3 separate regions of the Homo sapiens genome follow, and regions 1 and 3 are each reported to be linked to region 2. The links are microRNA targets in miRTarBase. Many come from high-throughput screens and were not tested one by one. Region 2 holds a microRNA gene; each other region holds the end of a gene's coding sequence. Distances are between the middles of the regions.
The links. The annotated mature microRNA hsa-miR-6801-5p reads UGGUCAGAGGCAGCAGGAAAUGA and lies in region 2 at 3,136-3,158, shown strand. An mRNA with a match to its seed (bases 2 to 7 or 8) in the 3' UTR can be bound and repressed. Matches are read on the target gene's strand: a 7mer-m8 pairs with bases 2 to 8, a 7mer-A1 pairs with bases 2 to 7 and ends in A, and an 8mer does both.

Region 1: miRTarBase lists SERTAD1 as a target of hsa-miR-6801-5p. Seed matches in the 3' UTR shown: 7mer-m8 at 5,603-5,609.
Region 3: miRTarBase lists UBAP2 as a target of hsa-miR-6801-5p. Seed matches in the 3' UTR shown: 7mer-A1 at 5,876-5,882.

What each region holds. Positions count from the first base shown.
Region 1 is chr19:40,416,331-40,423,330 of GRCh38, forward strand. SERTAD1 (SERTA domain containing 1) reads right to left here. Exons shown (of 2, transcript NM_013376.4): 2 at 5,259-7,000. The coding sequence ends at 6,506. Among named protein-coding and RNA genes, the nearest start is that of SERTAD1, 6.2 kb to the right of the region's middle. RefSeq lists enhancers at 4,363-4,863, 4,529-4,648 and a silencer at 4,939-5,028.
Region 2 is chr19:52,218,890-52,226,692 of GRCh38, forward strand. MIR6801 (microRNA 6801) reads left to right here and starts at 3,131; the gene lies at 3,131-3,209. It overlaps PPP2R1A (protein phosphatase 2 scaffold subunit Aalpha), which reads left to right. Exons shown (of 15, transcript NM_014225.6): 10 at 802-975; 11 at 1,300-1,360; 12 at 2,090-2,244; 13 at 3,210-3,352; 14 at 6,828-6,919; 15 at 7,076-7,803. The coding sequence ends at 7,092. RefSeq lists an enhancer at 2,671-3,870.
Region 3 is chr9:33,915,986-33,922,985 of GRCh38, forward strand. UBAP2 (ubiquitin associated protein 2) reads right to left here. Exons shown (of 29, transcript NM_001370062.2): 27 at 6,981-7,000; 28 at 6,702-6,893; 29 at 5,708-6,614. The coding sequence ends at 6,519. UBE2R2 (ubiquitin conjugating enzyme E2 R2) reads left to right here. Exons shown (of 5, transcript NM_017811.4): 5 at 1,033-4,414. The coding sequence ends at 1,252. Among named protein-coding and RNA genes, the nearest start is that of SNORD121B, 15 kb to the right of the region's middle.

The sequences.
Region 1 (7,000 bases), 12 Mb from region 2:
CTCAGGGTCAAACAGAAAAGGGAGGCTGGTACACAACATCCCCTCTCTTCCCTTGTCGCAGAGAGCAGAGATCTTTGCTTGTTCTCAGTCTTAGGGGAAAGCATTTAACCTTTTGCCATAAAGTAGGAAGTTAGCGGTCCATGTTTTGTAGATACGCTTTATCAGGTTAAGGAAGCTTCTTTCCCTAGTTTGCTGTGAGTTTTTTGTTTTCTTGTTTTTGAGAGATGCGGGTCTCACTATGTTGCCCAGGCTGGCCTCAAACTCCTGGCCTCAAGCGATCCTCCTGCCTTGGCCTCCCAAAGTGCTGACATTACAGGCATGAGCCACTGTGCCTGGCCTGCTGTGAGTTATTTTCTTTCTTTTTTTTAATTTTTCTTTTGTTTTTTTTTTTTTAGGCAGAGTTTTCGCTCTTTCACCCAGGCTGGAGCAAAGTGGCACAATCTCGGCTCACTGCAACCTTCGCCCCCTGGGTTCAAGAGATTCTCCTGCCTCAGCCTCCCGAGTAGCTGGGATTACAGGCGCCTACCACCACACCCAGCTAATTTTTGTATTTTACACTTGATCTTAGCCAAAAGGCCAAGAAGCAATAATTTTGTATTTTTAGCAGAGATGGGGGTTTCGCCATGTTGGCCAGGCTGGTCTTGAACTCCTGACCTCAGGTAATCCACCCGCCTTGGCCTCTCAAACTGTTGCGGTTACAGGCATGAGTCACCACACCTGGACTGTTGTGAATTCTTATCACGAATGGTGTGTCTCTCTGTGTGTCTCTATCTTTGTGTCTCTCTGTTCTTCTGTTTCTCTCTGTCCTTATTCTTTGTCTCTCTTTCCTAGTTTCTTTCTGTCTCATTCTGTCTGTGCGTTTCTCTCTCCCTCTCTCTCTGTCATGCTTTCCCTCACCCAAGGGGGTGTGGCCACGGGAAGCTAAGTTGGGGGTGGCCCCAGTGTCCTGGTTCCGGCTGTGGCCACCGCAGTAAACACAGGACATCCTGTGAGGCTAGGGAAGGAGGTGGACGCTTCTTCTCAGGGACCACCCTCTCCAGACTCAGTCTGAGCCAAGCAGGAGCCTTGGCCTGCCCTGCGTGGCCTAGCCACTCCGCCCCACCCAGTCCAGCCAAGGGACACTGGTGTCTCCCTCGATCCCACCGTTCACGCCCACCCCCACACCCCAGTCCTCTCTCCTGAGCTCCCGGCCCAGGGCCCGGGCAGCTCCATGCCTTCCCCTGGGTGTCTCCCCAGCCTCTTGCACCCCCTGGGTCCCTCCTTGGCCTCAGCCCCAACCCCAGACTTGCTTCTCTCCCCAGTTGCCATCTCAGGGATGGCCCCAGTGTCTCCCAGTCCCCTGATTAGAGCCCTGAGCCTGGTCTGAGACCCCTCCTCCAGGCCTTGTCAGTCCCACAGCCTGTCTGCTGGGCCTCCTGAGTGCCTCTTCCCTCCCAACAGCTGCTCCGTCCCTCCCCAGATTCTCCACCCCTGGGATCCTGGGCTCCTGGCCTCCAGTGTCACCTCCCCGACGATGCCACCCACCTAGTGAAGGGATCCTTTTACTTCATGACTCCCCAGCATCTTCAGAGTTAAGTCCCCCATCCAGGGTCCTATATGCCCTGGCCCCTGCGGACCCTTCCAGTCTTGTCATTTACCTTACTGCTTTCCTCCTCCTTCCAGCCAAACCCAGCAGCTTAGAGATCCCTGAAAATGTTGTAGGGTCTCTCTCTCAGTGACCCTTGCTGTTTCCTTGCCCACCAGAACAATAGTTCTTTGGGGCAGATACTGTTACTGTTCCAGTTTACAGGTGAGGACCCCGAGGCTCAGAGAAGTTAAGTACCTTGCCTAGAGTCACACAGCCACAGAGCGGTAACTCTTTTTTCTTTTCTTTTCTTTTCTTTTCTTTTCTTTCTTCCTTTCTTTTCTTTCTTTCTTCCTTTCTTTCTTTTCTTTCTTCCTTTCTTTCTTTCCCTTCCTTCCTTTTTTCTTCTCTCTCTTTCCTTTCTTTCTTCCTTCCTTCCTCTCTCTCCCTTCCTTCCCTCCCTCCTTCCTTCCCTCCTGCCTTCCTTCCTTCCGTCCTTCCTTCTTTCTTTCTGACAGGGTCTTGTTCTGTCACCCAGGCTGGAGTGCAGTGGTGCAATCATGGCTCATTGCAGCCTCAAACTCCTGGCCTCAAGTGATCTTCTCACCTCAACCTCCTGAGTAGCTGGGACTACAGGCGTGAGCCGTCGCATCTGGCCAAAGCTGGGGTTCAAACCCAGGCAGTCTGGCTTTCAGGAACAGTCTCTTCTCTCCAGCTTACTGCTTCAATAATATCTCTGTTAGATTTCTAAAGTGTGCCGGGACTGCATACCATAGGTGCTCAATAAGTGTTTTTTAATTTTGTTTGGTTTGGTTTTTTTGAGATGGAGTCTCGCTCTGTCGCCAGGCTGGAGTGCAGCAGCACAATCTCGGCTCACTGCAACCTCCGCCTCCCGGGTTCAAGTGATTCTCCTGCCTCAGCCTCCTGAGTAGCTGGGATTACAGGCCCGCCACCTTGCCCAGATAATTTTTGTATTTTTAGTAGAAATGGGGTTTCACCATGTTGGCCAGGATGGTCTCAATCTCTTGACCTTGTGATCCACCTGCCTCGGCCTCCCAAAATGCTGGGATTACAGGCGTGAACCACCATGCCCGGCCACTCAATAAGTGTCTAATGAATAGGGACAGAGGTAGAAGGTGAGCCTTGGAAAGTACAGAATTCAGACCCCAGAGAAGTGGGGTAATAAGGGCCCAGGGGCAGGGGAGAGATGTGGTCAGATTTACCCTTTACATAGGGATAGGCACACAGTAGGTGTGTGCTCATAAATTTTTGCTGAATGAAGGACAGGAAGAAGGGAGGGAGGAAAAAGAGACAAGATAGCTGGTCACAGCTCTTCCAGGTGTGAGAGAGAGAGAGAGAGTGTGTGTGTGTGTGTGTGTGTGTGTGTGTGTTTTGGGGGTGGTCTGTGAATGCCATGGAGGAAAGCTGGCCTAGGGGGCGTCATGGCGAGCATACACAGAGGCTCTGTGAAAGGTGGCAGTTGTGCCAGGGCTGGCGGCTCAGCTAGGAATGGTGTGGGCCCTGGAGTCTGCTGGCCAAGGTGGTGTGGCCTCCTGGGGTTGAGCCTGAGGGTGGAGCAGCACACCAGAGCCAGGGAGCCTGCACAACCCATCTGGGGGTGACACATGGGGAGAGAGGGGCAGGTCCTCACACATGAGCCATTCATAAACCTGAGGGCACCGGGCAGACGGGACCAGGGCTGATGTAGCCCATATGGTGCTTTTGTGTAAAAGACATGCCCCTTCCTGGAGGTACTTGACCTCCATCTGCTGGGAAACTTGTAATAAATATGTAAATGCAGGGTACCTGGAACACCAGTGGCAGCCCCTTACATACGGAGCCTATATGCAGTGCACAACCTATGCAACTGTACCTAGAGGCTCTGGGGAGAGGGGCCATCAGTGGCAAAGCAGGCACAGGGGCAGACGGAAGGATCAGCTCACCCCATATTGGGCCTCGGAGACATCAGAAACAGGTCCTTAGCTGGGCACAGTGGTTTGTGCCTATAGTCCCAGCCACTCTGAGGGCTGAAGCCAGAGGATCCTTTGAGCCTAGGAGTTCAAGGCTGTACAGCACTATGATCACTCCTCTGTACAGACAGTGCTCTCCAGCCTGGACAACACAGTGAGACCCAATCTCTTTGAAAAAGCGGGGAAAGGAAAGAATAAGAAACAGGCCCACGGGAATCCCAGCACTTTGGGAGGCTGAGGTGGAAGGATTGCTTGAGCCTGGGGGTTCGAGACCAGCCTGGACAACATAGGGCAACACTGTCTCTACAAAAAATTTAAAAAATCGGCCGGGCATGGTGGCTCACGCCTGTAATCCCAGCACTTTGGGAGGCTGAGGCAGGGCGGATCACTTGATATCAGGAGTTCAAGACTAGCCTGGCGAACATGGTGAAACTCTGTCTCTACTAAAAATACAAAAAATTAGCCGGGCATGGTGGCAGGCGCCTGTAATCCCAGCTACTCGGGAGGCTGAGGCAGAATTGCTTGAACCCAGGAGGCAGGGGCTGCAGTGAGCCGAGATTGCACCATTGCACTCCAGCCTGGGCGACAGAGCGAGAATCCATCTCAAAAAATAATAAATAAATAAATAAATAAAAATAAGAATAAAAATAAAATCAGTTGGGCGTGGTGGCGTGCACCTGTAACCCCAGCTAATTGGGAGGCTGACGCGGGAGGATTGCTGAAGCCCAGGAATTCGAGGCTATAGTGAGCTATGATCGCGCCACTGCACTCTCCAGCCTGGGCGACAAAGCGAGACCCCGTCTCTAAAAAAAAAAAAAAAAGAAAAAGAAAAGAAAGAAACAGGCCCGCAGAGTGTTGTAAACAGAGGGCGTTCATGATCCCTCGACCACTGGACAGATGTCCGGGGAACCCAAGACGGCGGCACCGCAGAGCCCGACTGGGCACCAGGGGGCGGTGCTGAGCTCAGCCCAGGCGCCCAAGTTTTGAGTCTGCGGCAAAGCAGTCCGAGTCCCATTTGCCCGGGGCTGGAGTCACTCGGGGTTGGAGTCAGGCGCCTGGAAGACCCTCAGCCTGGACGACAGCTCCCCGCAGGCCATTTTCACCCGCTTCCGCGGCCCGCCTCATCCACTTCCAGAAATGGGCACAACTTCCTCTGCTCCTCCAGGAAGCGCCACTCTGCCCGCCCCTTCCCGGCCCCTGGGGCCGACCCAGGCTCCCCATCTGGCCCAGCTCCACTCCTGCCTCTGCCTCCCCGAGGCTTCTGGCCAGAAGCGAGGCTCTGGGACCCCACGATGGCGGCGTTTCCCTCACTCAAGGCCCCGCTGGCCCCTCGGGTCACCGTCCAGCCCCCTGCGCCTCTCTCCATGCGCACCCGCAGTTTTCACGGTGACACTCCCTCCCCTCCGTGCACCCCCCCTCAGGCTCCGCCCTGTCCCTGCGGCCGTCAGGAAGGACGCAGCCTGGGTCCCGTGCCAGGCCGCTGAGTGTGCGGCCCCTCCCAGCCAGGCCTGGAATGCGGCTGGACCGCGGGGGCGGCCGCTGACACCCGGCGCTCCAGCCAGGCCCAGCACACGGGCAGGTGGCCCCAGCTCGTCCGGGTCTGGGTTTCTTCTAGAAGGAAGGCACAGCTGCCTGCCCTGAGCTCCCTCTCTGCAGTCCAGCTACCAAGCCTAGTGGCTTTATTTCAGACACAGCTCCAAGCGTCCCTATCCTTTGCCCAGAGATTTAAGACCAGGAGTGAATTTTATTTTTAAAAATGGGCTGTTGTCCCCCTTTCCTCCCCCATTTTCCTGGAGAGCCGACTCTCAGGGCTCCTTGGAGAGGATCTGTCCAGGGTCCAGGTTTTGTGTTTTTATTTCGGGACCATTCTGAAAGCAATCTCCCCTTCGCTCCTCAATAAATACAGGTAGACTCCAGGCGAGGACTTGCTTTCATTTTTAAAAAGTTGCCTTGACTTCCTGCTAGCAAAGAAAAGAAATAAAATTTAAGAAAAAAAAAAAAAGGCCAGGCACAGTGGCTCACGCCTGTAATCCCAGCACTTTGGGAGGCTGAGGCAGGCAGATCACGAGGTCAGAAGATGAAGACCATCCTGGCTAACACGGTGAAACCCTGTCTCTACAAAAAATATAAAAAATTAGTCGGTCCCAGCTAATTGGGAGGCCGAGGCAGGAGAATCGTTTGAACCTGGGAGGTGGAGGTTGCAGTGAGCCGAAGTCACGCCACTGCACTCCAGCCTGGGCGACAGAGTAAGAATCTGTCTTAAAAAAAAAAGAAAGAAAAAAAAAAAGTGGCCTGGTAGGAGGATCGCTTGAGCCCAGGAGTTTGAGGCTGTAGTGAGCCATGATCAGACCACTGTACTTCAACCTGGGTGACAGAGCGAGACCCTATCTCAAAAAAAAAAAAAAAAAAGTTCATAATTTAAAACCCACCTCAAGTGATAATCTTGGAACCTTGGTTTTCTCACCTGTAAAATAGGGATGATAATACTACCGATCTTGTAGGGCTGTTATAGGATTAAATGAGTTAACACAGTGACGTGCTTAGAAACTGTGCCTCGTACACAGCCTACGCCCAATAAAATGTTTGATGTTTTTATCTCGCCTTCACATTTGCCCAGAGACAAAGCAGCACACGGATTTGAGATTTCCCAGGACTGGCTTTAATTTGAAAAATCTGATTGGGGTCTCTTCCCGTATCAGAGAAGGAACAGCCCAAGCTATGACCCCAGGGCCAGGGAATTCAGTCCCCACCAGACCCTGTCATTCCATCACTAGGGGGTAATTCCAGGCTCCCCCTGCCAGCCCTGAGACAGGAGGACGGATGTGAAGTTGCCCAGGACTAGATTCTGTCTCTCCAAAGTGGCCCAAGCCCTGTTCTCTGTACTAGGGAAGCCAGCTGTGTCTTTTCGAGGACAGTTGGTCCAGCCAGCAGGCTCAGTTCAGATACCAGACAACCATTCCAGCACGAGGGCTCAGCGCCCTGGCCCCGGCGGTCGCTCCAGTGCCTGTGTGCCCACCAGCACATCCATGAGGTAGTCCAATTCGGCCTCGTCCAGCTCCGGAGCTTCCTCCTTGCCCGGCCCATCCTCAGGGCCTGGTTTGAGGCCCTCAGAGGCTGGTGCCCAAAGTTCATTGTCATACATAGAGGTGTCAATATCCTCAAACAGGCCCTCAAGCCCATCGTCCAGTAGACAGCCAGTGGCTGGGCCCAGCAGGTCCAAGGCACCCAGGCTGGGCGCTGCTCCCCCGATGCTACGGCCTGGTGGCCCCTCGTCTGCCAAGGGTTGGGGAGCCTGACTCAGGCCCTCAATGTGGCTGAGGTCCTCCAGGAGGCTGGCCATGGAGGCTGAAAGGGCAGCGTCCGAGCTTGCCAGTAAGTTGTCAGCCACACTGGGGGCTGCAGGTGGGCTAGGCACAGGTGGCAGGGCAGCCGCGGGTGCCATGGACGCCTGGATGCGCCGCAGAGT
Region 2 (7,803 bases):
TTCTCTTAGAAGAAAAGAACCAGCATGGTTTTCTTGGTGTGAGGAATTCATCTGACTTATATTTGAGATTTCCATTTTAGATTTATAAACTTTATATTTTACATTTTGACTCTCACCAGAATTTATAAACTTGTCTAAATGAAAAAGGCTACCTTTTTACTGGTGCACCAAAAATAAGTCTTTTTAAATGGGTGAGGTATAGTCTCTGAGCCTTCTCTTCTCATGCACATGTTCAGCAGCTTGAGGCTCACACAGCAAGGGCTGGAGCTGGGCAAGGGCCAGTCCTATCCTCGGAATGTGCAGGGTTTCAACAGCCCAAGCCTGCCAGGCTTGTTCACTTGGTTATTGATTCATTTCAGTGCTCCTTTATTTATTTATTTTTTTAGACTAAAATAGTTTTAATAAGGAAATAGTTTTCTTCCTTCCCTTCTCCCATGTTGTGGATTGATACCCAGAAAGGAACCCTTGTTAGCAAGCAGCGGAGCTAGGATTAGAAGAATCATGTCTGCCTGTTTTTTCCAGGGTGCTGTATTTTCCTACTGTGATTCTTAAAGTCTTTTCAAAATGGATAAACATTTCTTGTGATACTATTGTAAGGTTTAAAAATCTGCTTAAGTTAGTGATCCATGCTGCTTGCTTTTTGTGTGCCGTTAATGTGTTCCCAGAACGGGGAGCTGGGCTTGGACAGGAGTAGTCCCTCGGGAGATGTCCATAAAAGTTGATGCAGCTGAGCTCTTTCCATCCTGTCCTGGGTTGCTGTGTGCATTGCATTCTCTCAGAATCCTTCTTTCCTCTCCTCAGTGCCCTGAGGTACGGCTGAACATCATCTCTAACCTGGACTGTGTGAACGAGGTGATTGGCATCCGGCAGCTGTCCCAGTCCCTGCTCCCTGCCATTGTGGAGCTGGCTGAGGACGCCAAGTGGCGGGTGCGGCTGGCCATCATTGAGTACATGCCCCTCCTGGCTGGACAGCTGGTGAGTGAGGAGGCCTGGGGGCCAGGCAGTGCTGCCTCAGGGGAGGTGCAGTATGTCCAGGGCTGTGATGGGGAAACGGGGCTTTGAAGGCTTAGTGGAGGCTGTGACAACTGCCTGGGGAGTCGAAGGAAGGGACCCAGGAAATAGGGCCTTAAAAGATGCATTGGATTCAATAAGAGAGAGGAGGGAAAGGAGCACCTCAGACAAAGTTGAGAAGTGTCCGGTCTTTCTAGGGTGGGTGTAGGTTCCATGGGATGTGGCTAGCAGCTCCCCCTGTTTGCTCTCCTGGAACGCTTACCTTGGAACCCTTGGTTTCTCCTGTAGGGAGTGGAGTTCTTTGATGAGAAACTTAACTCCTTGTGCATGGCCTGGCTTGTGGATCATGGTGAGTACCTTCACAGGAGCAGCAAGAGGAGATGGGAGCTCCAGAAAGGCAGGATGGATTGGCTGGGGCTGTGGCGGGCAGTGGAGGAGGCTAGAGTCACTCCCCACGCCGCTGGATGCTCGTATGGACCAGCTCGCATGCTTGTTAGAGTCCTAGAGAAGTGTTGAGTGGGAGGAGGACGAAACAGATCACCCAGGGGTTGCCTGGTATAGTGGAGAGCCAGAGGGCCACTGAGCAGCCAGACCAGGGTTTTGAATCCTGCCCTTGGGGCTGTCAGATCTAAAACAAGTCACCTGCTGTCTTTGAATGAGCCCCACACTCATTCTTTGAAACTTCTTATTCTGGTGCCTTGGGGCCATTATGAGAATGGCTCATTGTTTACACTAAGAGAGGTAAAAAATAAAAGGTAATATTTATCTCTGTGAAGCCCTGTTTGAAGTAATAAGTGCCACATAATTTAGGCAAATCACTTCTTAGAGCCTTAGTTTGCCCATCTGTAAAATGAAGCCAGTAGTGGAACCTACCTCTTGGAGTGGTTGAAAAGATACTGTATAAAAAAAAACAGTTACTAGATATAGCACATAGTAAGTCCTTTTTTCTCTCTTTGGCTCACATGCAGCCTGGCACCTAGGGGCTGCTTTGTAAGCCATGGTGAGTGTGACCTACATTTTGCCCACATCAGTTCTTCACCTCCAAATCCCTGTCTCTCTCACCCTCACCCTTCTGCAGTATATGCCATCCGCGAGGCAGCCACCAGCAACCTGAAGAAGCTAGTGGAAAAGTTTGGGAAGGAGTGGGCCCATGCCACAATCATCCCCAAGGTCTTGGCCATGTCCGGAGACCCCAACTACCTGCACCGCATGACTACGCTCTTCTGCATCAATGTGAGCCTTCCACCTGCCTGCTGGCCCATCCCTAGGGAACTGGAGCGCGTGGGAGAGGAGGGATGCTAGAGGGTTCCCCAAGGGAGACACCTGGCTTGGGAATGGAGACATGGAGTGCATCTTCTATCCAGAGATGAGTCCTTGGGGAACTGCAGGCAAGGGGGTGGGGCTCCCAGGGTCAGGGTCATAGGGCCTCTGGGACTGGGGACTTGGATGGTGAGGGACCCAGGGCCTGGGAGACTTGACCTGTTGGAGCAGCGATCTCAAGCTTTATGAGCACCCCTCTCCTTCCCTGAGAAATGTGTGTCTCTATCTGTGGTGCGTTGGGTGAGTGTATGGGCTCTAGGTCAGACCTAGTTTTAAATTCTGGTACTGCCATATATTAGCTATGGACCTTGGATAGTTACCTAACCGATGCTTTGGTCTTCTCATTTGTAAATAATTCATACTGTAAAGAATTCATACTGGTAATCACAGCCTGGTGAGCGTGAAGATTAATCAGGTTATACACGCACAGGGCTTAGAACAGTTATGCTACAGGTAGGAAGTGCTCCTGTCTATTTGCTTTTCCTACGATTATAATTATCTCATGTACTACTTATTTATGTGTAAACCATACACAGGGCTAGAAAGGAAGGGATTTAAAAATAAATATAACTAAGTGTTCTGATCATTTCTTCCCACGCCACTCTCTGGAGAGCATTGCTTTAAGGAGGGATCCTAGGGCTTGGTAATTAAGGTCGATCTCCAGAATAATTAAGGGAAGCCTGAGGACAGAGAAACTGGGACATGGTGTTAGGATGGTGTTAGTGGAGTTGGGAGATTCACTCCACTAACTGAGTCACCCGTATTGCTCAGCCTCTGTGGGGCCTGATGATCACCAGAGTGGCCTGGTCAGAGGCAGCAGGAAATGAGAGTTAGCCAGGAGCTTTGCATACTCACCCCTGCCACTCACTGGCCCCCAGGTGCTGTCTGAGGTCTGTGGGCAGGACATCACCACCAAGCACATGCTACCCACGGTTCTGCGCATGGCTGGGGACCCGGTTGCCAATGTCCGCTTCAATGTGGCCAAGTCTCTGCAGAAGATAGGGCCCATCCTGGACAACAGGTGAGGTCTGGATACTCCCCCACACACTGGCAGGGGCTTCTTGTGGGCACCTTAATCTTTGACCTTTGAAGGTAGAGCCCAGGGTCAGAGGCCTGGCAGCGCTCCTTGCTTGCTGTGTGACCTTGGCTCCCTTCCCTTCTCAAGGTGTGTTTTCTCAACTGTAAAATGAACATCACAGCATGAAATAGAAAGAGGGGGTGATGGGTTGGCAGTCCTGTATACTAGCAACAAGTCATTAGAAAATGAAATCACCTTATGTTTTATATGTAAGTATGTGTATAATTTATAATTGCACCAAAAATATCAAATAGCCAGGAATAAATTCAATGAAAGATGTGTATGTAACACCTCTAATGTAAACTGTAAAACACTAATGTGAGAAATTAAAGCAGACCTGACCAAGGTGGGCGGATCAGTTGAGGTCAGGAGTTCACGACCAGCCTGGCCAACATGGCGAAACCCCGTCTCTAGTAAAAATACAAAAAATTAGCCGGTGCGGTAGCACTCACCTGTAATCCTAGCTATTTGGGAGGCTGAAGGCAAGAGAATTGCTTGAATCCAGGAGGTGGAGGTTGCAGTGAGCTGAGATCATGCCACTGCACTCCAGCCTGGGCGATAGAGCGAGACTGTCTCAAAAAAAATTAAAGCAGACCTACATAATATTCACGGATGGGACAGTTCCCTGAACTCATCTTTAGATTCAGTATAAGCCCAATAATCTTAACAGGTTCTTTAGTGGAAAATTGACACTTCTAATGAACAAAGTTGTCTGATTTACACTACCAGAGACGAAGACTTATGACACCACAATAATTAAAATAGATGTGAACACAAGCATATTTAAATCGCCCAATAGAATGGAATCAAGGGTACAGAAACAGTCCCACATGTGTTTAACAGTAGGCATCTCTGCAGTTCAGTGGAGAAATGTATGTTTTTTAAAAAACATAGCTGAGTCAATTTGATATCCATTTAGGAATAAAAGAAGGCTCGCCTCAATGCATAAACAAATTAATTTGAGATGACAGACCAGAACCAGAAAGATTTTAAAAATAAAGGACCTAGAAGAAAATGTAGGAAAATATCTTCTTGAGTTAGCGTAGGCACAGATTTGTTAAACAGCAAACCAGAGGAAGTGATGGGTAAGTTGACCTTCTGTAAAATGTAACGCTGTTTCTCAAAAGACAGCATTTTGAGAGTAAAATGCAAGCCACTGACTGGAGGAAGATGTTTTAATATATGTTTCTGAGAAAGGACTCATCCACAATACCTGTCTACAAATCAGGCAAGACAAGAAAGAGATGGGGAAAAAGACTTGAATAGGCACTTGAAAAAGGATCTCCAAATAGCCAGTAAGCATATGACAAGGGTGTTCAGCATCATTAGCCTTCAGGAAAATGCAAATTAAATCTCAGTGACATATGACTACACGCCTCCCAGAACAGCCAACATTAAAAAAGACTCAGTGGTGCAAATGGTGAAGACATAGAAGAGCTGGAACTCTCATCCATTGCACGTGGGGCTGTACATTTAGGGTTTGATCACTCTGAAAACGGGAGTGGATCTGGAGTGGAATTTGGTGAAGCTTGTTATACAAACAGCCTGTGAAACAGCCCTTCCACTCCTGGGTCTCTATCCAGGAGAAATGAGTGCTGTTTCTGTCAGAAGAATGTTCATGGTAGCTTTATTCATAGTAGCCGTAAAAATGGAAACAACCTCCATGTCTGTCCACAGTAGAGTAGATAAATTTTAGTTCATTCAAACAGTGGAAAACTATTCAGCAGTGACGAAACAAATGCCTGCTATAAGCAGCAACAGGTGACTCTCACAGATACCATGTTGAGTGAGGAGCCAAAATCAAGAAAACACACCATTTATGTCAAGTTCAGAAACAGGCAGAATGAAGGAATCGAGATGATGGAAGTAAGAATAGTGGTTATTTGGGGAGAACAGGGAACTGTCAACTGAAAGTGTGGGACCCACAACTGCAGATTTCTCTTTCTGTCTGTTCCAGGACACAACCTCAGCTTTAGTTTCTCTCCGAAGTCCCCCTCCGTTTTCCAAAACAATTGACTCTTGGTGCAGGCGGATTTCCCTGGGCCCCATAGATGAGAGTGGATGCCTCCTCTGGGCTCCTGGAGGACCAGGAACTTCCCCTTGGGGCCACTTACCACTCCCCTCTTACGTACCAGTTTGGTCTCTTCCTCCTGGCCCGGGTGCCTCATGGCAGAAATCAAGAGTGATTTAGCTCTGTATTCACTCCTAATACATTGTAGGCCTCAGTGAATATGTGTGAAATCAATGAAAGATACCCATTTGCTGGGCCTCAGAGACTTGGGGGTTCTGAGATTCTGTTCCACTTTCCCAGCCTGCTCTGATCTCCCTGTTTGGGGCCCCAGTCCTTGTTTATCATACTTCTGACCTTTAAGTAATTGGTTGGTTGGTTGGTTTTTTGCAGTTTGTTTGGTTTTCCTTTGAGGCAGAATCTCGCTCTGTCGCCCAGACTGGAGTACAGTGGTGCGATCTCGGCTCACTGCAACCTCTGCCTCCTGGGTTCAGGCAGTTCTTGTGCCTCAGCCTTTCAAGTAGCTGGGATTACAAGTGTGCACCACCATGCTTGGCTAATTTTTGTACTTTGAGTAGAGATGGGGGTTTTCCCATGTTGTCCAGGCTGGTCTTGAACTCCTGGCCTCAAGTGGTCTGCCCACCTTGGCGTCCCAAAGTGCTAGGATTACAGGCTTGAGCCCCCGTGCTCGGCCTTGAGTTTACCTTTTTTTTTTTTTTTTTTTTTTTGAGACGGAGTTTCGCTCTTGTTGCCCAGGCTGGAGTGCAATGATGCAATCTTGGCTCACCACAACCTCCGCCTCCCAGGTTCCAGCAATTCTCCTGCCTCAGCCTCCCAAGTAGCTGGGATCACAGGCGTGCACCACCACGCCCTGCTAATTTTGTGTTTTTAGTAGGGACAGGGTTTCTCCATGTTGGTTTGGCCAGGCTGGTCTCAAACTCCCAACCTCAGATGATCCACCCACCTTGGCCTCCCAAAATGCTGGGATTACAGATGTGAGCCACCACGTCCGGCCTGATTTTACTTTTAATTGACTCATAATTTTATATATTTATGGGGGTATAGTAGTGTTTCAATAATGTGTGCAAATGTGTAATGATCAAATTAGGATAATTAGCATATCTATCACCTTAAATGTTTACTGTTTCTTTGTGATGAGAACATTCAAAATCTTCTCTTATAGCTGTTTTGAAATATGCAAAATGTTATTATTAACTATGGTCACCCGCCTGTGCAGTGATCAGAGATTTCTAATTCCTGTGTGTGCCCTGGATTCTTGAGACTCCTCCCACCTTGGGTTTGGTGTATCCGTGTCTGTGTACACTCTCTTGCCCAAGAGCCCTGTGCCCACCTGTTGCCCCAGTCCATCCTGGCTCACCCTCTCTCTCCCTGTCTCCTTTCGCTTTCCAGCACCTTGCAGAGTGAAGTCAAGCCCATCCTAGAGAAGCTGACCCAGGACCAGGATGTGGACGTCAAATACTTTGCCCAGGAGGCTCTGACTGGTAAGACCTAGAAAGCACGGAGCCCTAGCAGGAGGGTGGACTTTGAGGACAGGCACTGGGCCTGTGGGCAGCAGCTTCTGGGAGGGGGAGGTACCTTGGCATTGTGGGCAGAGAGAGGGCTCTGGTTCTGATTCTTGCCTGTTCCTGTTTTCCTAGTTCTGTCTCTCGCCTGATGCTGGAAGAGGAGCAAACACTGGCCTCTGGTGTCCACCCTCCAACCCCCACAAGTCCCTCTTTGGGGAGACACTGGGGGGCCTTTGGCTGTCACTCCCTGTGCATGGTCTGACCCCAGGCCCCTTCCCCCAGCACGGTTCCTCCTCTCCCCAGCCTGGGAAGATGTCTCACTGTCCACCTCCCAACGGGCTAGGGGAGCACGGGGTTGGACAGGACAGTGACCTTGGGAGGAAGGGGCTACTCCGCCCACGTCAGGGAGAGATGTGAGCATCCCGGGTCACTGGATCCTGCTGCTGTAATGGGAACCCCTCCCCCATTTACTTCTCCACCTCCCGTCCTCCCCATCATTGGTTTTTTTTTGTGTGTCAACTGTGCCGTTTTTATTTTATTCCTTTTATTTTCCCCCTTTTCACAGAGAAATAAAGGTCTAGAAGTAGTTGGTCCTCTGGCCTTAGTCATCAGCTTGGAGGAGGGGGCACCACCCCAGAGCCACAACATCTGCGCTTTTCTCTGGAGAAGATCTTGTTACAGGACCCATTATACCCCTATGTCCCGAAAGAATACTCTGGGGATCCCCCCAGGAGTGCTGCTGGCCTTTGGGGTAGAGGGTCCATGAGGTGCTCTGGGTGGTGTCCTGTAGTGCAGTTCAGATTCATAGATGTCGGCCGAGTATTTGGGGGGTTAAGAGCAGGTGCCTTGGAACCAGACTG
Region 3 (7,000 bases), not on the chromosome of region 2:
GTGTGTCCGAGATGCCAAAAAAAGACCAGGGTGAATGTGTTGAAGGGCTGGAGAAAATACAAGAGTGGGTCATGTGGCCGGGTGCAGTGGCTCATGCCTGTAATCCCAACACTTTGGGAAGCCGAGGTGGGCAGATCATGAGGCCAGGAGTTCGAGACCAGCCTGGCCAACATGGTGAAACCCCATCTCTACTAAAAATACAAAATTTAGCCCGGTGGGGTGGCGGGAGCCTGTAATCTCAGCTACTTGGGAGGCTGAGGCAGGAGAATTGCTTGAACCTGGGAGATGGAGGTTGCAGTGGGCCGAGATCACGCCGCTGCACTCCAGCCTGGGTGACAGAGCAAGACTCCGTCTTGGGTGGGGAAGAGTGGGTCGTGCAAGACACTGGAATCTGGCATAGGCATTTGAATTTTACTGTCAGTGAAAATTAAGAGGATAATTAAATTAAGAATTGTTGGGGCACTTGAGTTTGGTGGTGAGGTGACTAGGCCAAAACCCTAGCCAATCCCCTAAGCACCCCACCCCACATTAAACCAGAGTGGGACGTTTTATTCACATATGCAACCTTTATGATCTAGCCCCAAGAAACTAGGAGGCGTATTAGCCCTTCTATTATCTATTCTTATTCTGGCAGTTATCCCTGTGCTTCACACATGCAAACAACAAAGCATGACATTCCGCCCACTAAGTCAATACCTGTTCTGATTCTTAAGTCGCCGACCTATTGGCCCTTACATGAATCGGAGGACAGCCAGTTGACGAGGTGATTCTGGCTATAATTGATCCACTGCTTTAAACTCCCTTGATATTAACAGTGTATTTCCCCTCCTAAAAAGTCAAAGTTTACTTCAAAATTGTACCCAGTGGGTTGAAAGCATTTGGTGTAGTACAGGGTATCTGTCAGATGCTTTCAGGCAGGTACTGAAGTTTGGAGAGCTGAGTCATAAGTAATATTGATTATTTAAGGCCAATTATAAATCTGTCTTAAAAAAAGACTTACCGTAAACCATTTCTGTGTCAACCTCCCTTCAGGAAACAAGTTTCAGCCACTAAGGCCGAAGCAGAAAAGGATGGAGTGAAGGTCCCCACAACCCTGGCGGAATACTGCATCAAAACTAAAGTGCCTTCCAATGACAACAGCTCAGATTTGCTTTACGACGACTTGTATGATGACGACATTGATGATGAAGATGAGGAGGAGGAAGATGCCGACTGTTATGATGATGATGATTCTGGGAATGAGGAGTCGTGACGTGCTCCTTCAGTGCCCCTGTACTGCCCTGCCATCTCAGGCCAAAGGGAGGGGAGCAAGTGGGGACCTGGCCATGGCCCCTCAGCAAAAACCTATTCACAGCGGGTGGGGAAACACACACAGCTCCTGCTGACTCCCCTTATGGATCTCAGTTTGCTCCTTTTTATGGACCTTTAATGGAGAGAGAGTAACCCTCCACAGAATGTCTGAATTCTTGCATTCTTTACCCTTCCATCACTATATTGATTCTTTTTTTAAAAAATATGAACCCAAACTCCCGCCTCACTTCGTCTCTACAGAATGTTCACAGCAAAACACGTTTGGTCTGTTTTTAGATTCTTGAAGAATTCAATAGTCTTTCAAGATGTTTAATGTGTTTAAAGCTGGGAACCTGTTGGGAGTTCACAAGTGCTGCATATACTGGGTAGCAAAAGAAAATGGAAAAAAACCCACAAAACAAACTTTAAAAAAAAAAAAAAACAAATTTGCCAAGGTTTAGCTGCTCATTTACATTAGTGTGTGTGCATTCGTTCAGCCCCATGGTGGTGAATTCTGTTTCTTTCCTTTCCTAAGGCTGGGACATGGTGGGCATCAGGGACTTTGTGCTAAGCCTGATGAAATGTGCTCCTTCAATCTCCATGAAACCATCGTAACATGGAGGCCTCAGCTGCTCTGAGGAGAGAAATCAGACTTTGTTTTTTGAAATCGATTGGGATCGAAAGCCTGAAATAAATATTCATACTTTCCATAGAACTGAGCACTTGGTTGCTATTTATTTTAAAGGCAGGGTTATTTCCCCCCAGGGAGTGGGGCAAGCGGGGAAGTTGGGATGAGTGCGTGTGGGAGCAAAGAGTTAAAAATCACTATGCTAAGTTTGGTTGATGCTACTGGGGGGAAAAAGTTGAAACTACTGGTGACCACTGTTGGGAGAGGAAACATCTGTTTTATAGATTTAGCATGGCCTTCCCATCAAAAATACACTCGTACCATGACGTTTTGTTTTTGTTTTTTAAGTAGCCACTTTTAATTACTCAGTATTAATCCTAGGTGCATGTGTTAAGATTTCGGTTTTCATCGAGCTGCTTATACTGATAGTGAAAAACTTGGATGTGTGTGAGACGAGTTACCGCCTTCTTCATTGGATGTGATCTGAACTTTTTTTCTCCTTTCAACATACTTAGGCTGTGGAGTGCAAGCAGAATTATGCATAGAAATTGTGGCAGGGCTGAGGGAGTTGACTGCAGGCAGTTTTTAGGCCAGATAAGGCTAGATCTTCCTGCAATGCACTTGCTGCAGCTTTGATTTTCCAGATCTCAATCGTGTTGCTTCAATCAATATTGAGATCCAGCAGCCTTCACCATCCAGGAGACTTCAGAACTTGAAGGTAATTTTTGGTTGTTATGGGGGTGCACCAGATCATAGGAGGGCATTATTTGGAGGAAACCGCTATAATGTAAAATCAGATTTCAGAAGGAAAATGCAGCAAGGACTGACTGTAGTCCTATTTCAGACCCCTGGGCACTAGTGTCAACTCCTCCTTTGGCTCGTAACTCAGAAAGAACCAAAGGGCAGATTAGGGACGGGGCAGGAGGGATCCTAGGATGGCCAGAGTAGGTGACGCTTACTTCCTTAGCTCCTCCTTCCATTCTGATCTCAGGGTTTTCACTCTTCAAACTCCCAAACACATGACTTCTTCCCAGCAGCCCTTCCCGGCCTCTAAAGTTTGGTCCCAGCAGCCCTTCCCAGCCTCTAAAGTTTGGTCTGGTATGAAATGGGACTGTTTAACAAGCAAGGCTCTTAGGGGACACTGTTGAGCCTGGTCCCAGAATCTGTGATCTCCACAGGGCCAGGGTTGCTACTTGCACCCAGAATCTAGTGATTTTAGTCAGATCCATGGAACAGAGCAGCTTCGTAATACATTGTCAAGTTACCTGATTACAAACTCTCATAGATGTTGGAACTACCTTTTTACTCCCCATACTTTGTAAGTAATGCTTCCAGATTAACCTGCAAATCTTGTGGAGCCAAAGCCTCTCACAGTGCTGATTTACCTCCCCCAAAATGCCCCCAAACCCCCATGCAAGTTTACAGCCAGTAGCTTGGTCTTATTCTCTTGGAGCCCTAAAATTAAGCCTTTCATTCCCCTTTGCTAAAGCATCTCACTCCCAGGGCAGCCCCAGCACCCTGGCATTGCGGGAGGTGCTCTGCTGCACAGCTGTTCCATCAGGCCCTATTGGCCTCTGTTAGACATTGACTCAGGGAGCCGGAGCGCCAAGTGGAGGTTGTACCTTTCAGCCCTTTGGGGTGTTAAAAGTGTCAAGGGCTGGGTTTGCCTCTGATGAGTACAATCAGTTCCAGAAGACTGGGTAAGTCTCTTGCTAGCAGGTGGACATTCTGGTATTTTAGACTGACTGAACGAAACCCAGAGGCTGGTTCCAGAGCTCTGTCCCTGAGAACACATCCCTGTGGAAAATACTTGAGTTTGTAATTTTTTTTCCCCCTTCTGGGAGTGGAGGTCTCAGGCTCAATCCGGAACCATGTACGTACAGTTTTGCTTATTATTTGATGTGACATGAACTCAAAATCCTGCATTTTTAGATTCCTTTTAGTTCTAATTGAGGCCTCACTAGATGCTCTTCAGTTCTGTGTATTTTGAGGCTGGGTGGAGAAGTATATGATTCTGCTGTTGATTCTTTCAGTCTTCCCCCCTTCTCCTTTTATCAATCATTCCAGAGTTATTTTCTATTAGTCAAACTTTTTTGTAGAACCTTCTTTCCCTTACCCTGGCAAATTGCTTCTTTACTTGCTGGTTTCCTTACGTTTGGGGCACATGTTGTAAGAAACTGATTGGAAGGGGAAATGTGCAGCTCTCCACTGGAAAGGAACTCTCCACCCCTCCCATCCTGATAAAACAAACAAGGTTTACATTTACAACTAAAAGGATTCAGATGCAATTTTCAACTATTCTGAAACCAGCAGGACACACCTGACTTTAATAGTTTTAGCTGAAATTGTAGATGTTTTGCTTCAGTTTAACTTATGAGAAAAGATTATCTGACGGATTTTGTGTTGACTTCCCCTTTAGTGGTTTATTTTGTCTTTTTCTGCCCATCTGTCTACTAATAAAATGTGAAATAAAATACCTGTATTGCTACTTCCCCATGAAATGACCCTCTTCTTTTTTTACCTTGTGTTAAAGAAAACTAAAAGGTGGTCTCATTATCACTGTTAAGTTTGCAGATTACGCTGGGGCTCAGCTGAAAAATTAGACAAAAACCAAAACTGGGGAATCTGCCTTTCTAACTAACTCACCTCCCTGGTGTATCCCCAGTCCCTTCAAGCTCCTTATAGACGTAGCCATTTGTTAAACTTGATTCTGAAAACGGGAGCTGATACAAGTAGGTCAGTGAAGGATTGAGGGGTGCTCTGCTGCTTTCCTTAGGCAAACATTTTCACTGTCATTTGTTTTCCTAACTTACTGCTGCTAATAGCAGGGATCAGGCAGATCACCCTATTTAATAAAAGTCCTAATTTTACCTGTAGACACTTACCTTTTTTCTAGGTAAGGTCCCAAGCTGTGGGTTAATAGGAGTATCGGTCCCATCTGATGACAGGACCATCGCTCTCAATTGTAGAGGCCAAAAGCAGAAAAAGTAGATTGTGACCCCAGGCTGGTTCTGACACAATCAATCAATCAATCACCTGACTAGCCATTTTATTTCCTCCTTTAACCTGATCTGAAGCAGCGATTTAGGAGTGAAAAGAGAGGCTGTAGCACCTTGGGCAACACTTCTAGGCCCTGAGCTTCCTGCCTGCTGGATTGGAGCACAGTTGTGGTTGGCCAACAGGAGATCTGCCTCCTTCCTATGGCCCTTGGTTACTCCCTGGCTTCTGACCTGACACAAGGTGAATGGTTGGTTGGGCTTTTCTGGAGCAGATATGTAGCCCCGGATCCACCAGCCTACCTCATGACACCCTCACTAGTCACGTGTTCTACCATAGCTTTTGACTGCCAATCAAGATTATGTTCAGTTGATGACAAGCAAAAGACAGGTATACCTGTTCATACTCTCCCTTAAGGCCTAGAACCCTGCTCTCAGTTCTTGGCTTTGCTTCAGATTGTAAAAGTCCACTGAGATTTGGAAAAGAAATTACCCTGCCCTGGTATCCAGTGGACAGGGCTCTGTGGGACACTGCCCTATCCCTAAGTCTCTTAAGGAGCTATAAGAAAAGCCAGGTTAACTTTGATCAACATGGCCTGGGCCCTGTAAGGAGGTTTAGCTGTCCTTACAGCCATTGTGATTTGGGCCAAGAGGGTCCAGTAAAAAGGAAAACCATTTCAAGCCTTTATAGCCTGTGTCAGAAGACTATGACCATGTGGGATCTCCTTTAGCCCTGTGAAGTCCAGGGCTTCTGCCCTGAGCTGCCCTTCAGTCACACCACACAGAGACCATGCATGCTCTCAGAACTTTATTAGGTGGGGATTGGGCAAGAGAAAACCCCTGAAACAGTTGCCCACGTGGTTCAAGACAACTAGAATGGAGATGTGTTGCTTGGAGATACCTTAGATTTTTAAAGGGGAGCTGACTGGCTGAATAACTCAGATTATTTTTTTTTTTTTCATGGTCAGCCAGTCTCTAGTAAGTCTCTAGGGACATGACCAGACCAGAAGCCCCTGTTCTATATGAAGACAAACAGGTGGCCATACTTGGGTGGAGGGATACCGCTGCTATTCCCAGATGAAGATTTGGTGGAAGGAGACCATGACAGATGACAAACGGAACAGTTTCTCAAAAACAGAGGTATGAAGTAATTACACAGGAAAGAAAACAATTTCCAAAGGAGTGAGACAAGTCGTGATTCTTCATTGGTACCTGACCCCTATACCCAAACAGCCTTGAACCAGCCCTTCCAGAGACTGCCCCTAGTGGCCCACTGGGCAGTGCAGGCTGTGAAGAAGACCTGAAGGCAGATGGGGTGGGGGTGCTTATTTTGCTACAGTGGAGAAGGGGCTTGAATGGGGAGGGCAGACCTGGCTAACATCTGCCGCCATCCCCCAACTCCCCCCCAGACTTCTATCACATTTACAAATACATACATAAATACATTACATACAGTAGCCAGTCTGGGAGGCAGACTCCCCACAGAGGCATGGCTGACACATGTCGGGAATTCTAGGAAAGGGCACTGGGCTCCCAAATACGTGCTCGTGTGTTCTCTCCTGCCCAGGATAAGCCTTGCCCCAGCCCACCCCTCTCTTCTGGGTTTAGTTTGTCCAGTATGGAGAGTTGCCGTAGGCAGGTTTGGAGGCTTGAGACTTGGGCTGCAGGGAGCTGGGCTGGCTGCGCTGACCCGAGCCACTCTGAGGAAGAGGAGAAGGGAAGGCTGTCAAGGCTGGAGCAGAACCCCTGGCCCAGAGTAGGGTGGCTGCCTCCATCACTGTACTCACCTGTGCATCCTGCGGAAGGTGGTGGTGCAGCAGCTGTGAGTGGGGCTGCTGGTGGGCTGGCAAGATGTGTAGGAATGGTGGGGGTGCATAGCCAGGGGCCGCTCCCGAGGCCAGGGGCCCAGTGGAGCCCAAGACCGAGGGCAGGCTGAAAGGTGGAGGCGTCCCTGCATGAAATCCCTGCTTGTCAAAAGTCTACAGGGCAAAGAAGACAATGGTGAAGGTCAGGTTGGGCTGTAACCTCTCAAAAACCTATACACCCAACCCACCTTTGTCCCTCACCTGTGTCTTATTGTAGACAG